Linked DNA regions of Homo sapiens: region 1 is linked to region 2. A link means that fine-mapping ties the variant in region 2 to the plasma level of a protein whose gene starts in the linked region. Region 2 holds a variant in brackets. A gene starts in the other region. All regions are shown on their reverse strands. Region 1 holds the start of TFPI (tissue factor pathway inhibitor). Region 2 has its middle 1.0 Mb from the start of EPHA3.

What was found. PIP is the chance, under the fine-mapping model, that this variant and not a neighbour inherited with it causes the effect. Protein levels are from antibody-based Olink assays in UK Biobank. Linkage for the fine-mapping came from a reference panel and not from the study's own genotypes, which makes the PIPs less certain.
Region 1: it holds the start of TFPI, and the variant in region 2 is fine-mapped to the plasma level of the TFPI protein (UK Biobank, PIP 0.97).

Annotation. Positions count from the first base shown.
Region 1 is chr2:187,550,434-187,558,887 of GRCh38, reverse strand. It overlaps TFPI (tissue factor pathway inhibitor), which reads left to right and starts at 4,453. Exons shown (of 8, transcript NM_006287.6): 1 at 4,453-4,688. RefSeq lists enhancers at 244-826, 827-1,411.
Region 2 is chr3:90,124,096-90,132,549 of GRCh38, reverse strand. No RefSeq gene overlaps it. Among named protein-coding and RNA genes, the nearest start is that of EPHA3, 1.0 Mb to the right of the region's middle. The variant C/A (reference allele first, on the strand shown) is at 3,787.

The sequences.
Region 1 (8,454 bases), not on the chromosome of region 2:
TCATAAATGAGGAGTGTTGTTTTTACCTAAATCAATCTGGCCTGGTGTATGACAACATAAAAAAACTCAAGGATAGAGCCCCAAAACTTGCCAACCAAGCAAGTAATTACGCTGAACCCCCTTGGGCACTCTCTAATTGGATGTCCTGGGTCCTCCCAATTCTTAGTCCTTTAATACCCATTTTTCTCCTTCTTTTATTCAGACCTTGTATCTTCCATTTAGTTTCTCAATTCATCCAAAACCGTATCCAGGCCATCACCAATCATTCTATACGACAAATGTTTCTTCTAACATCCCCACAATATCACCCCTTACCACAAGACCTCCCTTCAGCTTAATCTCTCCCACTCTAGGTTCCCACGCCGCCCCTAATCCCGCTTGAAGCAGCCCTGATAAACATCACCCATTCTCTCGCCATATCACCCCCCAAAAATTTTCACTGCCCCAACACTTCAACACTATTTTGTTTTATTTTTCTTATTAATATAAGAAGGCAGGAGTGTCAGGCCTCTGAGCCCAAGCCAAGCCATGCATCCCCTGTGACCTGCACGTATATGCCCAGATGGCCTGAAGTAACTGAAGAATCACAAAAGAAGTGAATATGCCCTGCACCACCTTAATGATGACATTCCACCACAAAAGAAGTGTAAATGGCCGGTCCTTGCCTTAACTGATGACATTACCTTGTGAAACTCCTTTTCCTGGCTCATCCTGGCTCAAAGCACCCCCACTGAGCACCTTGCGGCCCCCACTCCTGCCCGCCAGAGAACAAACCCCCTTTGACTGTAATTTTCCTTTACCTACCCAAATCCTATAAAACAGCCCCACCCTTATCTCCCTTGGCTGACTCTCTTTTCGGACTCAGCCCGCCTGCACCCAGGTGAAATAAACAGCCATGCTGCTCACACAAAGCCTGTTTGGTGGTCTCTTCACACGGATGCGCATGAAACTTTATTTATTTTATTTTATTTTATTTTATTTTATTTTTTTATTGATCATTCTTGGGTGTTTCTCGCAGAGGGGGATTTGGCAGGGTCATAGGACAATAGTGGAGGGAAGGTCAGCAGATAAACAAGTGAACAAAGGTCTCTGGTTTTCCTAGGCAGAGGACCCTGCGGCCTTCCACAGTGTTTGTGTCCCTGGTTACTTGAGATTAGGGAGTGGTGATGACTCTCAACGAGCATGCTGCCTTCAAGCATCTGTTTAACAAAGCACATCTTGCACCGCCCTTAATCCATTTAGCCCTGAGTGGACACAGCACATGTTTCAGAGAGCACGGGGTTGGGGGTAAGGTCACAGATCAACAGGATAAGAATTTTTCTTAGTACAGAACAAAATGAAAAGTCTCCCATGTCTACCTCTTTCTACACAGACACGGCAACCATCCGATTTCTCAATCTTTTCCCCACCTTTCCCCGCTTTCTATTCCACAAAACCGCCATTGTCATCATGGCCCGTTCTCAATGAGCTGTTGGGTACACCTCCCAGACGGGGTGGTGGCCGGGCAGAGGGGCTCCTCACTTCCCAGTAGGGGCGGCCGGGCAGAGGCGCCCCTCACCTCCCGGACGGGGCGGCTGGCCGGGCAGGGGGCTGACCCCCCCACCTCACTCCCGGATGGGGCGGCTGGCCGGGCAGAGGGGCTCCTCACTTCCCAGTAGGGGCGGCCGGGCAGAGGCACCCCTCACCTCCCGGACGGGGTGGCTGGCCCGGCGGGGGGCTGATCCCCCCACCTCCCTCCCAGACGGGGCGGCTTGCCAGGCAGGGGGCTGACCCCCCCACCTCCCTCCCGGACCGGGCGGCTGGCCGGGCAGAGGGGCTCCTCACTTCCCAGTAGGGGCGGCCGGGCAGAGGCACCCCTCACCTCCCGGACGGGGCGGCTGGCCGGGCGGGGGGCTGACCCCCCCACCTCCCTCCCGGACTGGGCGGCTGGCCGGGCGGGGGGCTGATCCCCCCACCTCCCTCCCGGACGGGGTGGCTGCTGGGCGGAGACGCTCCTCACTTCCCAGACGGGGCGGCTGGCCGGGCAGAGGGGCTCCTCACTTCCCAGTAGGGGCCGCCGGGCAGAGGCGCCCCTCACCTCCCGGACGGGGCGGCTGGCCGGGCGGGGGGCTGACCCCCCACCTCCCTCCCAGACGGGGTGGCTGCTGGGCAGAGACGCTCCTCACTTCCCAGACAGGGTGGCTGCTGGGCAGAGGGGCTCCTCACTTCTCAGATGGGGCGGCTGCCGGGCGGAGGGTCTCCTCACTTCCCAGACGGGGCCGCCGGGCAGAGACGCTCCTCACCTCCCAGACGGGGTCGCGGCGGGGTAGAGGCGCTCCTCACATCCCAGACGGGGCGGCGGGGCAGAGGCGCTCCCCACATCTCAGACGATGGGCGGCTGGGCAGAGAGGCTCCTCACTTCCTAGATGGGATGGCGGCCGGGAAGAGGCGCTCCTCACTTCCTAGATGGGATGGCGGCCAGGCAGAGACACTCCTCACTTTCCAGACTGGGCAGCCAGGCAGAGGGGCTCCTCACATCCCAGACAATGGGCGGCCAGGCAGAGACGCTCCTCACTTCCCAGGCGGGGTGGCGGCCGGGCAGAGGCTGCAATCTCTGCACTTTGGGAGGCCAAGGGAGGCGGCTGGGAGGTGGAGGTTGTAGCGAGCTGAGATCACGCCACTGCACTCCAGTCTGGGCGCCATTGAGCACTGAGTGAACCAGACTCCGTCTGCAATCCCGGCACCTCAGGAGGCCGAGGCTGGTGGATCACTCGCGGTTAGGAGCTGGAGACCAGCCCGGCCAACACAGCGAATCCCCGTCTCCACCAAAAAAATACGAAAACCAGTCAGGCGTGGCGGCGCGCCTGCAATTGCAGGCACTCAGCAGGCTGAGGCAGGAGAATCAGGCAGGGAGGTTGCAGTGAGCTGAGATGGCAGCAGTACAGTCTAGCTTCTGCTCGGCATCAGAGGGAGACTGTGGAAAGAGAGGGAGAGGGAGACCGTGAGAGGGAGAGGGAGAGGGAGACGGAGAGGGAGAGGGAGAGGGAGAGGGAGAGGGAGGAGAGGCGAAACTTTCAAGAAAGAAAATCTGATTGGCTGAGCTTGCCTCTACCTGAGCTACAGATTCCTCAAAAGTTTAATCAAGGTCCATGGTGGTACCAAGAAAAAAGGACTTTCCTCTACAATCTGAGTGAGATGATAGCTTTGATTGTGGTTGAGGGGCAGGGCATGAGGTAATAGGAGATAAGTTATTAACATGATATGAAATCCAGAACATGAGTGAGAAGGCAGCATGGAGGAGGATTTATGCATTTTTGCTCTAAAGGCAGACTGCATGACATTAGAATCACAGCTCCACATACTGAACTCGATCTTCCTAGACATGTGAAATGGGCATACAAAGAGGACCTTCTTTATAAGCTAGTTGTGAGAATTAAATCGATAATTTATGTTCCAGTCACCACCAAATAATTATTCAATATGTATTAAAAACACTCAAGATGAAAGGTTACCTTTTACAGAGAGGTCTAAGGAAAGCAAGAAAAATTGAAGGCACAAAGAATCTGAGATGCAGAAGCAAGAAACTCCTACATTTTCTGACCAAATGTCTTCAGCCTTCCTGGCAAAGTAGATTCTGCCCATTTATTAGATCTCTAGTGATCTTAGTCTGATATGACCATAATTCCAATACAGAGACAGTACGGATGAACCTCAATGATAGGGACATACAGCAGAGACTCTGGTTGACATCTGTAAATATTTACATATTTTGTAGAATAATAATAATAGAAATACAGAAAACAGCGATAATGATAGCCAACAATTATTGGAGGTTTGCTACATGCTGGGTCCTGCCTTAAGTACTTTTTATGTATTAAGCCATTTAGTACTTACATCAAGCCCAGAAACTTTTATTATCGACATTTTAGGAACAAAGGAACTGAGGCATAGTGAATTCAAATAACTGGGCTGAGTAGCCAAGTTAGCAAGTAGCTAAGGTAGGGCTCAAAGCCTGACACCTGCAATAGATAATGCATTACATTGTCTCACTAAGAGAGACCTCCAACGGTAGCCCTCAGACTTTTAAAAAAAATAAATACATTGACAGTGGGTGAAACAAATGAAATAACTTGAAGAAGAAACAAACTGCAAAAAAGCTTATTAACAGTGTAATAATAAATATGTAATTTTTTAAACCCTAACTCTAGGGGGAAAAAAGCATTCTTTTTCAACTGATTACAAAAACAATCCTGGAAAGTAAAGGAAATAGCTATTCAAAATGATCGTATCTGAAATCTTGGTGTAAGCTGTTTCCTTCATCTGTTTCCTCCACTAAAAAAAAGAAAGAAAGAAAGAAAAAAGAGGTTTAGACTAAATAGAGTCAGAGTTGCAGTGACCTAAACAGGAAGTTGGGCTATTCCCAACTGCCAGTGATCTCTGAAGCCGACTCTGAGGCTCCCTCTTTGCTCTAACAGACAGCAGCGACTTTAGGCTGGATAATAGTCAAATTCTTACCTCGCTCTTTCACTGCTAGTAAGATCAGATTGCGTTTCTTTCAGTTACTCTTCAATCGCCAGTTTCTTGATCTGCTTCTAAAAGAAGAAGTAGAGAAGATAAATCCTGTCTTCAATACCTGGAAGGAAAAACAAAATAACCTCAACTCCGTTTTGAAAAAAACATTCCAAGAACTTTCATCAGAGATTTTACTTGTGAGTACCTGGCAATATACTGTCTAGCCCATAAGAAATAACTTTAATTTCTTTTTCTCGGGGGAAAAGCAGGGTGCTGAGAGGCAAAGAACTGATAGGGGAGGATCACTGTTTATTTGCGTAAAATGAAAATCAGCCCTTCCCTGTAAACAGAGTAAACTCAAACTGCAATCCAAACTTGAGTTCTCAGCATTTTGCATTTAGTTCTTAAGCAAATTTATGTGCAATTTTTATGATTTTAAACCATAAACATTTTTGTAACTAATTGGTGTATGTAGCTTTTTTATAATTTGAAGATTGTAGTAGAATTCTTTACTAATTGTGCTTGGTTAATTGGAAGTTCTTGAAAGTTCGGTTTACCTTTCCATTTTATTTCATAACATATAAAATAGAGACTGTTATTCTTCTATTCAAATAATCTTTCAATACTATTAGTTGATGATATTTAAAATGAGGTATAACCATTAAAATAATCGTAATCTAAATGGAATATTTTATGCCAGCATTAACTAATCTCTCTAAGGAAATATTTTACAATTCTCCAAAGACCAAAGGTCATATTCTGAGATACTTAAACGAGAATACTTACGATCAAGTCTATGTTGTGCAATTTTGTAAATTAAAACAATAGATAACATGCCTACATGATGTACTGTTATGTTCCTGTTATAAAATGTTTGCTTCTAGTGAAAAATGAAAGCATATAATACAGCAGTAAACAACCACAGAAATATAATGAGAGAAACAATTATTTAATTATGAAAAAGCACTCATTAGTATAAAATAATTACCAAAAATAAGGGCCAAGAGTACTACCATGTGGGAAAAAAGAAAAGATAAGCAACAGCCACACTGTGACTCAGTGCTCTGGAAATTAGTCACAAAATGACTTTGTATAACATGAGATAATATAAACACAAAGGGCAAAACTCAAGCAGGAAACATACTGCCCAGAGAGTCATATTTCATGTGTAAAAGCATAATATTTACATGAAAGGGGGAAAGTTGTGACAATTTTGAGAGATACTGCAAAACTTTTGAATAAAATGTGTTAGGGAGGCAAAATCTCCCTAACACATTTTAAAGATTATTTTAAATCTATCATTCTAGTGCATGATTATTTCAATATACAGTGTCCATATCTCATCTAATCCTTAAACTAAAGAGGGATAGTCCCTGAAATTTGGCTGAGTTTGAAATGTTAATTTGTGGCCTACAGCTTAATAAAATTATATGAAATATAATTAGGGATCAACAAAGATTGAAAAATATTAATGTAAATACAGATAACTAATCAAGTAATTTTAAAATAAGAGTAAAACTTTAAAATATTTATTTTTACTGATTTGAGTAGTTATATTGGAAAACCAAGTTTTTCTACTTCAAGTGACCACAGAATCTTGTTGGAAAAGTTTAATGACATATACTACTATTTGATTCCTATCTCTATTAGGTATACTGAATTGGACAAGTTTTTGTTTTGTTTTGTTTCTTTGTTTTTAAGGTACAGTCTGATATCTTTTGTTTTACCACCAATGACTAAATCAAAACTCCTTTGGAAATGTGGTTCCTGTCCAAATGGATTATGTTATCAACTGGTGTTTGATGGTCTGACTGATTGTCCATTTATCAGTCAGATAATCATTTAAGGAAATGATTATCATTTGCTTGTTGATTGTACAACTATTTTGACTTAAATCTTCTGTCATAAAACTTATTGTTAAATTAATAATACATAAAATGATAACATATTTTGTAATAAACTCTAATTTTCAAAACAGCTTAATTATCTTAAAAATTAATTTTCTAATCTTTAGAAATCTTTTGTTTACATCTTTCAAATTCAAGAGGTAAGTGGGCAGGATGGCAAACTAATGGAGAAAAAATGCCAACTTTAGAGACTTAATTTAATGCCAGAGTGCCTATCCATCTAACCAAATAGTAAATATGCTATCAATTCCTTAGGAATGGTTGGCTGATTAAATTCAGTGTCACAAAATTTTAAGGTATCTTTCAACTGATATCTCTACCTAATACAAGAAAAAAAATGCAAAGTAAACATCCTTACAAAAAATAAAAAGGAACAGACAATATGAAAAGTGAAGAAAATTACTTAGACTAGGATTTTCAAAAAAATCTTATCAGTATAAATTAATTAAATTGAATTATAATATAGGTTAAAATGGGTTAATTATATCATCAATTTATTTTTTTCTATGTGGACATGATCTAAGAATTGTACTACAATACAACTCATCTATTCTCAATAAAGGCCTTCTACAACCAGCCATCCTTTTTTGTTTACCATCTATAGCAATTAACTCATTTTAGGAATTAAATTTGGCAGGCTGCCTTTTTAAAACACAAATATATTTTCATGCATTAGTGTCAAAGGTAGATTCTGCTATCTTTTATAGAAATATAGCAGTACTATAATTCTTTCTGATTGCTACAATGTGCATTAGGAGAAACTTGAATTCAATAGACATGTGTTTCTGGATATCAAATCTCACCAGAAACAGGGAAGTGTTCAAGTGTTTCCAGCAAGTTCTCTTCATAATAGACCATCTTTCCTGGCTTTCTGAAATCCTCACTGACTGCTTTCTTGGTGTTATGTATCAATTCCGGGGGCCCAGTCTTCCCATTACCTTTCTCTCCCTGTCTTCACTTCTCCAAGTGTCAGGTGCCAAGTAGAACCACAGCCTGAGATTCAACTACCAGTAGCTACCAGTTGCTGAAGGCAACTTCTTCACCTCTACTTTTCTTCTTCCTCAAACCGACAATAACAGAAAGTATGGGCCCATGTCAAATCCACTGTTTTCTCTTTAAGCCTCTATTTGGGATGCTATGTCCTCTCTTAGTTGGAACAACCAGGTGTTAAAATTACTTCAAAAACAAAAGAATATAAGGACATCATGGCCCATAATAGAAGTTCCAATGCTGCAGTACAACTATCCCAATTGTTCCATGTGATGGACCACAGGTCTCTGTGTAGACTTGGAATTATTGCAAGGAATTACCCAGTCAATATGTGAGTAAAAAATATTATATATTGCTTATTAGGGCATAAGAAAGCTATTTCAACATCAGAAATGTGAAAGTATTCATCAGTAGGACACTGATAAAATGTAAACAGTTTTTATTACCAAGCACAATGTGCCTTTGACACCCTCGAAATATACCACACCCTCAAGTGCTGCCACCACACTGCTGCCAACCTAGTCTATCTCTTCTCCTCTTCTTGACCCTTATCTATTTCTATCCAGTCCTTGAATTCTATGATAATTCATCTGTAAGCATCACTTCATTCCTCATTCCTCATTTCCCAAGGCTTAAAAACAGAGTAAATCTCAGAAACAGGGTAAGTCTCCAGAATAATGGTGTTTATTATGAATATTTTGGTAATATTTTAAAGTCCATTTAGGAAGCTTCAAAGATTAATTTTCATCTCAGAAAATGAATCACAATGGTTATATTAAAATGTAATACAACTTTTCTCTAGTTTTTTGGACATATGGAAAATACTTTACATTTTTAATATTTTTGTCTGCTAATTCTGTTTTTGATGTCATTTCTGTCATTTAGACTTTTCTCATTATGAGTTATATTCTACTGTTCTTTGCATCCCTAGTAATTTTGATGTGGTTGCCTAATATTATGAATTTTACCTTATTGGGTGTTGGTATATGTTGTATTTCTATAAATATCCTTGAGCTCTCTTCTGGGATGTAGTTAAAGTACTTGGAAACTGTTTCCTATTTTGTTG
Region 2 (8,454 bases):
TAATAATAATAATAAAAAACCCACAAAGCATGTCTGAGGAATTAAGTAAAAACAATAAATAAGTCATTTTACAAGAGTTCAGTGATCTGGAACTTCCTATTCCACTTACCCACATTGAGGTTGTGTTGGTTAGTGTCAGTGGGAAATCTTACCCTGAAATGGAAAAATATTAGCAATGAGTCAGCCTCAAAGGGTTCACATTGAGTTTGAATAAGTATCCTGAGTTCAAACGTCTATTGGGATCTTAGTTAAACCTCTACCATCTACTAGTGCAGACCAAAAACTTTGACAGAACTGGCTTTTTTCCAGTATTGCTCCAGCATCTTCTGTCTCTATCAGAATGTTAATTTCTAAATTCCCTATATCCCTTATGTTTAATATATTTTCCATTCTTGCTCAATGGGTGTTCCTTCTTCACAGACATAGTAACGTTGAAAGTAAATTTACATATGCAGAAGATATGCAGTGGTAGGAAAAAGGTGAAGAAAATCTAACACCAAAGAAGTAAAACTCAGAGTTTTAGAGCCTCTGATTATAAGTGAATATGAGAAACACATGGGAAAAGAAAAGGTTAAAACTTTACAAAATTCTGCAAAAATGCATGACAATAAGTAAAAACAGTGTTAAGTTAGCTGGTTACATACATTAAATGTCATTTGATGAGGTCTTTGTAAAAATAATTCAAGCTATTAGATCTTTGGTTTGCACTGCCAAGCATAATTTATCCATTATCCGTTCCTCGTTAAATCAGAAAATTTCATATAATGTATCTTAGTAATTTAAAAAAATGTGATATGGGGGTTGGGAATTCTGAACATCAATATTCTTATTACTAGACTTTCTTCATACTACACAAACTAAATCTTAAAGGAGGTTCTGTTTTATCCTAGAGTAATTCCCTAGCTATGACATCTTAAAATTTCATGCCAGTGTGTTTAGAGTTGAACAAATTAGGAAGATATGGGGAGTAAAACTGGCCCTTTTGTAATTCTATAATAAATTATTATTATATATTTTGCTAACTTTGTTTGCAACTTCTAATAAAATATTTGATTGTGGCAATAATCATTAACAAGTGATAAATACTATTAGGTGAAAGATTGCTACAGATATTCATGAGATGTAAAAATATCATCACAAATATTACTTGTTGGTCACCAAGGGAAAAAGATATACTTTTATAGAGAAGGGATAAAGCTGTCACCCCATCAACTGAGAATCCAATGTTAGCATCACTAATATTGCAGATGTGATGTATGTCTTATTGTGATGCAGTATGAGGTACATAGCATCACCTATAAAGTATTATGTTGCATCACACTCCAGCACAATGTTTGTTCTAATTGGCTTCAAGACTTCTTTTGAATTTTGAGAGAATTTCAAGATGAAATGAGTATTAAATGGTACAAAAAATTAAGTTTGTTAAGTGCAATAATGGTGTTTTCTTATACAGGAAAACATTATCTTTAAGGATTACAAATAGTGATGTGGTGTTGTATTTAGGGCTTAAATATCATGATGTCTATATTTACTCCAAATTATAACACAAAAATAGATTAAATAATATAGTAATTGCCAGTTGTTAATTGTGATGATGAATGTATTACTCAGGGTTCTCCAGAGAAACAGAACCAAACGAATGTATGTGTGTATATATACATATATACGTATATATACACCTATATATACATATATACGTATATATACACCTATATATACATATATACACATATGCACACATACGTGTGTGTATATATACACATATCTATGTGTGTGTATATATATGTACATATATATACACATATTTATGTGTGTGTGTGTGTATATATATATATAGACTGAGAGAGAGAGAGATTTATATTAAGATAATTTTGTTTTAAAGAATTGCCTAAAATGATTATGGAGACTTTACCAGCCAGTCCAAAATACGCGGGGTGGACCAGAGAAGGGCCAGTGTTCAGGTGAAGTCTGAAGGCCATTTGCTGGGGAAAGCTCAGTCTTTTGTTCATTTCAAGTTTTCAAATGATTGTATGAGGCCCACCCACATCATGGAGGACAATCTGCTTTACTCAAAGTTCATGGATTTAAGCATTAATCTCATCCAAAAACTTGCTTACAGAAACATCCAGAATAATGTTTGACCACATATCTAGACACTGTGGCCCAGCCAAGTTCACACATAAAATTAACCATCACAATGGGTATATGAAACTTATTATTTTTCTACCTTTCTGCTAGATTTAAAATCTTCGAAATTAATATTTTTTAAAATATTTAAAAATTTATCTTGTAGATATTTATTTCTTATAAAATGTTGTTCCATTAGTTGTTGTTTCATTAGTTGTATGAAAAATTAAAATATGAATTCTGAGAATACAGAAAAGTTTATTATCAGTGCTTACTTTATCAACCTTAGTCAATGACATTTACACACTGCTCTTTACAGTATTATACAGAGAACAGAAACGAAAAAGAAAAAAAAAATTGAAGTCTTTGATGTTTAAAGTAGGAAAAACAGATGTGAAAGATTCGGTGGTTTAGGTTTCTGGTATATTTTATGCTGCATCTGTGGAGAAAAATGAAAAAAATTATTCTAATCCCATAGAAGCTTTCAAAGGATTTTTTTTTAAATTGCAAGTCCAAATCAATTACGTCATCCAATGATATCTATATGGACATGTTTAAACAGGATTTGACATATCTCCTGGTCTCATGGCTTGTGGTGTTGAGACAAATTTTATTTTAATCATTGGATACTCTTTAGTAAAGACAAAAGAGTACTCAACCCATTTAGAATACTTGGGGAATAGCTGAGAGATGGTATGATTGCACTCGAGATTTCTGACAGAGCTCAAATTAGAGAGAGAAAAAACAAGTAAAAATATGCTGGTATTGTTTGTGATAACAACCAAGGCACTTAGTAAATAATTTAAAAAAATAATGCCTGATTCAATGATTTAAATCAAAACAATATGAATGCTGGAAAACTATGAATTAGAGTTAACTGTGCTCACAGGAGAAGTGTCACTGGTGGGAAAAAAGTTTCTTGCAATGGCCGCTGGGACAAGAATAGGAAGCAGACAGGGAACAGAGTAGCTTTTGTCCTCCCCCAGTCCTCCAAACTCCCTCTAGCAGCACCTATTCTCAATGTACAACAGGGAGACAGCTGGGTAAAGCAGAAATATGGTTTATAGATGTCCAGCCCCAGCATCACACAAAGCAGTATTGAAGGTTGCGCTTGAAGCTTACTATGCAGCACACATGCTACTGATAACAGATCACTGAATATAATTAAGAATTTTTATCTCAAGTAAAATCATGTCTTATACAAACACTATATATATCATAAAGCTTTGGCCATGATTGCCTCTACTTTTTCTCCTTAGGTTACCTTTGGCCACTTTATTCTCATTACCCCTTCCCTCAAAGTGGAGGAGAGAAGAAATGGAAAAGAATAGATATGATAATATATAGAAATTACAGTTTGAAGAGAAGATTAGAGACCAAGCCAGACACTATCTTATATTCTGGGAAATGTAGATGTCTGGTGAACACAAATGCCTTTGTGATCTTTAACACAGTATTTTATTGCTTATTAAACCTTCCTTCCAAAGTATCAAGCCCAGCTGAAAATATGATTATATAAACTAGGGATTAGAGTATGATCTAAAACTTCTGCAAGAGCATTTCTTTTTTTCTTTTTTGTTTTTTTGAGGCAGGGTCTCACTCTGTCACCCAGGCTGGAGTGCAGTGGCATAGTCATGGCTCACTGCAGGGTCAACCTAT[C/A]TAGGCCCAAGTGACCCCCCCACCTCAGCCCCACAACTAGCTGGGACTACAGGTGCGTGTCACCATTTCTGGCTAGTTTTTGTAATTTTTTTGGTTGAGATGGGGGTTTTCCATGTTGCCCAGGCTGGTCTTGAATTCCTGGGCTGAAGCAATCCACCCGCCTCAGCCTCTCAAAGTACTGGGATTACAGGCATGAGTCACTGTGCCTGGCCACATTTCTTATTTTATGCTAAAAATAGAATTATATTGGGTTTCTTATTTTAATAAAAAAATTAGTCCCCTCCATCTATAAGGTGTTGCATGTTTAATGTGTGACTTGATTAACAACAGCACACAGTCACCCAACCCACAGATACATAGTTTAAGAAACATGACAGCAAATCATTTATACATGTGTCACTTAAATGTATAAATGATGTTGGCTTTGTTAATATAGTCATGAATTGCTTAACAACAATAAAAATGGGATGTGTTCTCAAAATGTGTTGTCAGGTAATTTTGTTGTTGTGTAAACATTATAGAATGTACTTACACAAACCTACTTGACATAGCCTACTACACATATAAACTACGTGGTATAGCCCACTGCTCCCAGGCTACAAACCTATATAGCATGTTACTATACTGAATACTCTAGGTAATTATAATGCAATGGTGAGAATTTTTGTAACCAAACATAAAAAGTACAGGAAAAATACAGTATAAAAGACAAAAAGACAAAAATGATACACCTGTATAGGGCACTTTCTATGAATGGAGCTTGCAGGACTGGAAGTTATTCTGGGTGAGTCAGTGAAAGAATGTGAAGGTTTAGGCATTACTCTATACTACTGTAGACTTTATAAACACTGTAGACTTAGGATATACTAAATTAATTTTTAAAAAGTTTCTTTAATGATAAATTAGTTTTAGCTTAGTGTAACATTTTTAAACTTCTTTTTTTAATGTTTTAGCTCTTTTTAAATAATGTTTACCTTAAAACAAAACACATTATACAGTTGTACAACAAAAATATTCTTTTTTTAAACAAATATGTTTTATGTTCATAGCTTGGAAAAATTAATACTGTTTAAAATGTCCATATTACCCAAAGCAATATACAAATTCAATACAATTCCTATCAAAATTTCATGAATTTTTTACAGAAATATAAAAAATTTTCCTAAAATTTGCATGGAACCACAAAACACCCCAAATACCCAAAGCAATATTGAGCAAAGTAAATAAATACAACAAAACATACAAACAAAAAAATAAAGCTGAAGACATCATACTACCTGGCTTCAAAATATACTTCAAAGCTATAATAATCAAAACAGCATGGTACTGGCATAAAATACATGTAGACCAATGGAGTAGAATAGAGTGCCCAGAAATAAATCCACACAGTTACCGTCCACTGATTTGCAACAAAAGTATCAAGAATATACAATGGAAAAAGGACAGTCTCTTCAACAAATGGTGTTGGGACAATCTGATATCCAGATGCAGAAAAATGAAATTAGAGCCTTATCTCACACTGTATACAAAAGTCACCTCAAAATGGATTAAAGACTTAAACATAGAACTGAAATTGTAAAACTAACAAAAGAAAATACAGTGGGAAAGATCAATAGCACTGATTTGAGTAATGATGTTTTTTATATGACCTTGAAAGCACAGGCAATAAAAGCAAAAATAGGCTAATGGATCAAACTATAGCATCAAACTAAAAAGCTCCTGCACAGCAAAGAAAACAAGATTGAAGGGACAATCCACAAAATGGGAGAAAATATTTGCAAACCATACATCAGATAAGGAGTTAACATACCTAATATATAAGGAGCTCAAACAACTCAATAGTAAGAAAACAAATAACAAGATTTAAAGGATGGGCAAAGGATGTGAATAGACATTTCTCAAAAGAAGACACACAAGTGACCAACAGGTATACTAAAAAATGCTCAACATCATGAATCATCAGAAAAATGCAAATTAAAACCCCAATGAGATATCACCTCACACCTGGAAGAATGGCTATTATTGAAAGAGGAGAGATAACAAGTGATGGAGAGGATGTGGAGAAAAGGGAATCTTGCACACGGTTGGTAGGAATTTAAATTAGTACAATCATAGTAAACAATATGGAGGTTACTCAAAAAATTGAGACTAAAACAACTATCCAGCAATCCTACTACTGGGTATATATCCAAAGGAAATGAAATCAGTATGTCAAAGACCTATCTGCACTCCCATGAATCAACTTAAATGTCCATAGTGGATGAATAGATAAAGAAAATGTGAAATATATATATACAGTGGAATACTTGTCAGCCATTAGAAAGAATAAAATCCTGTCATTTGTGACAATATGGATAAATCTGGAGGGCATTATGTTTAGTGAAATAAGCCAGGCACAGAAAGACAAATACTGCATTATCTCATTCACGTGGAATGTAAAAAAGCTGATCTCATAGAAGCAGAGAGTATAACAGTGATTACCAGAGATGGTTAGGGCAGTAGTAAGGAGGAGAAGTTGAGGAGAGGTTGGTCAATGGGTACAAAGTTACAATTAGATAGGAAGAATAAGTTCTGGTGTTTTATTGAACAGTAGAGTGTAGTTAAGAATAACGTATATTTCAAAATAACTATTATAGAATAGAGGATTTTGAGTGTTCTAACTTCAAAGAAATGATAAATGTTTGAGGTAATGGATATGCTAATTACCATGATTTGATCATTACTCAGTGTATATATGTATTGAAACATCAGACTGTAGCCCATAAATAGGTATGTGTCAATTAAACTAATAAAAATAATAAAATGTATAGTTACTTCCAGGGGGTAGAAAATGTGGTATATATTCATGGTATACTATACAGCCTTAAAAAAGGAAAATCCTGTCATTTATGACAGGAAAAACAAATAAGATAATCCAATGTACCATTTGTTGAAAAGACTTGTTCTTTTTATTGTATTATCTTGACATCTTTGTAAAAACTCAGTTGACCATAAATGTGTGGGCTTAATTCTGGACTCTATTTCATTCCTTTGATCTATATGTTTATCTTTTCACTAAAAGTAGATTGTCTTGATATTGTAGCTTTATAAGTTTGAAAATCAGCTGTGAAATCCTCCAATCTTGTTCTACTTGTAAACATTGTTCTGGCTATTATAGGTCATTTAACGTTTCATATAAATTTTAGAATCAACTTTTCAATTTCTACAAAGAATTCCGCTGGGATTTTTATTGGGAATGTGTTTAACATTTAGATCAATTTAGGGAAGATTTGGTATCTTAGCAATACTGAGTCATCAGACTGTATGAACATATATACCTCCATTTACTTGGATCTTTTTTTTTTATTATACTTTTAAGTTTTAGGGTACATGTGCACAACATGCAGATTAGTTACATATGTATACATGTGCCATATTGGTGTGCTGCACCCATTAACTCGTCATTTAACATTAGGTATATCTCCTAATGCTATCCCTCCCCCCTCCCCCCCACCCCATAACAGGATCTGGTGTGTGATGTTCCCCTTCCTTTGTCCATGTGTTCTCATTGTTCAATTCCCACCTATGAGTGAGAACATACGGTATTTGGTTTTTTGTCCTTGTGATAGTTTGCTGAGAATGATGGTTTCCAGCTTCATCCATGTCCCTACAAAGGACATGAAGTCATCATTTTTTATGGCTGCATAGTATTCCATGGTGTATATGTGCCACATTTTCTTAATCCAGTCTATCATTGTTGGACATTTGGGTTGGTTCTAAGTCTTTGCTATTGTGAATAGTGTGGCAATAAACATACGTGTTCATGTGTCTTTACAGCAGCGTGATTTAAAATCCTTTGGTAAACAGGTGCTGGAGAGGATGTGGAGAAATAGGAACACTTTTATACTGTTGATGGGACTGTAAACTAGTTCGACCATTGTGGAAGTCAGTGTGGTGATTCCTTAGGGATCTAGAACTAGAAATATCATTTGACCCAAAAATATTCTTTCTTAATAACCTTGTTCTATATTTTTTTTCTACTTTAAAAATTATTTATTTTCTACTTTTTAAATGTTTTTGTTAAAAAAGACACGCATTAGCTTAGGCCTACACAGGGTCAGAATCATCAATATCACTGTCTTCCACTTTTATATATTGTGCCATTGGAAGTTCTTTAGGGACAATAACATGCATGAAGATATCATGTTTTATGATAATAATGTCATTTTTTTGAAATACGTTCTGAAGGACCTGCCTGAGGCTGTTTTACTGTTTATTTTTTTCCCTATTATGAAAGGAGTACATTCTAAAATAATAACAAAACTATAGTATAGCAAATACATAAGCCAGTAACATAGTCATTTATTATCAACTATTAGTTACTATACATAACAGTACATGTTACACTTTTATAGGACTGGCAACACAATAGGTTTATTTACACCAGCAGCACCGCAAACATGTATGTAACAAGTTTTGCTAAGACATGAAGGCAGCTACAGTGTCACTAGGCAATATAAATTTTTCAGCTCATTATCATCTTATGAGACCTCTGTTATATATGTGGTCTGTCATTGACTGAAATGCTGTTATATAGTGTATGACTACATAAATAAAAAAATCTGTAGAATCATAGAGACTCTCATATCTATCAATATAATCGTATTTGAAATTATTTGTATTGAAGCT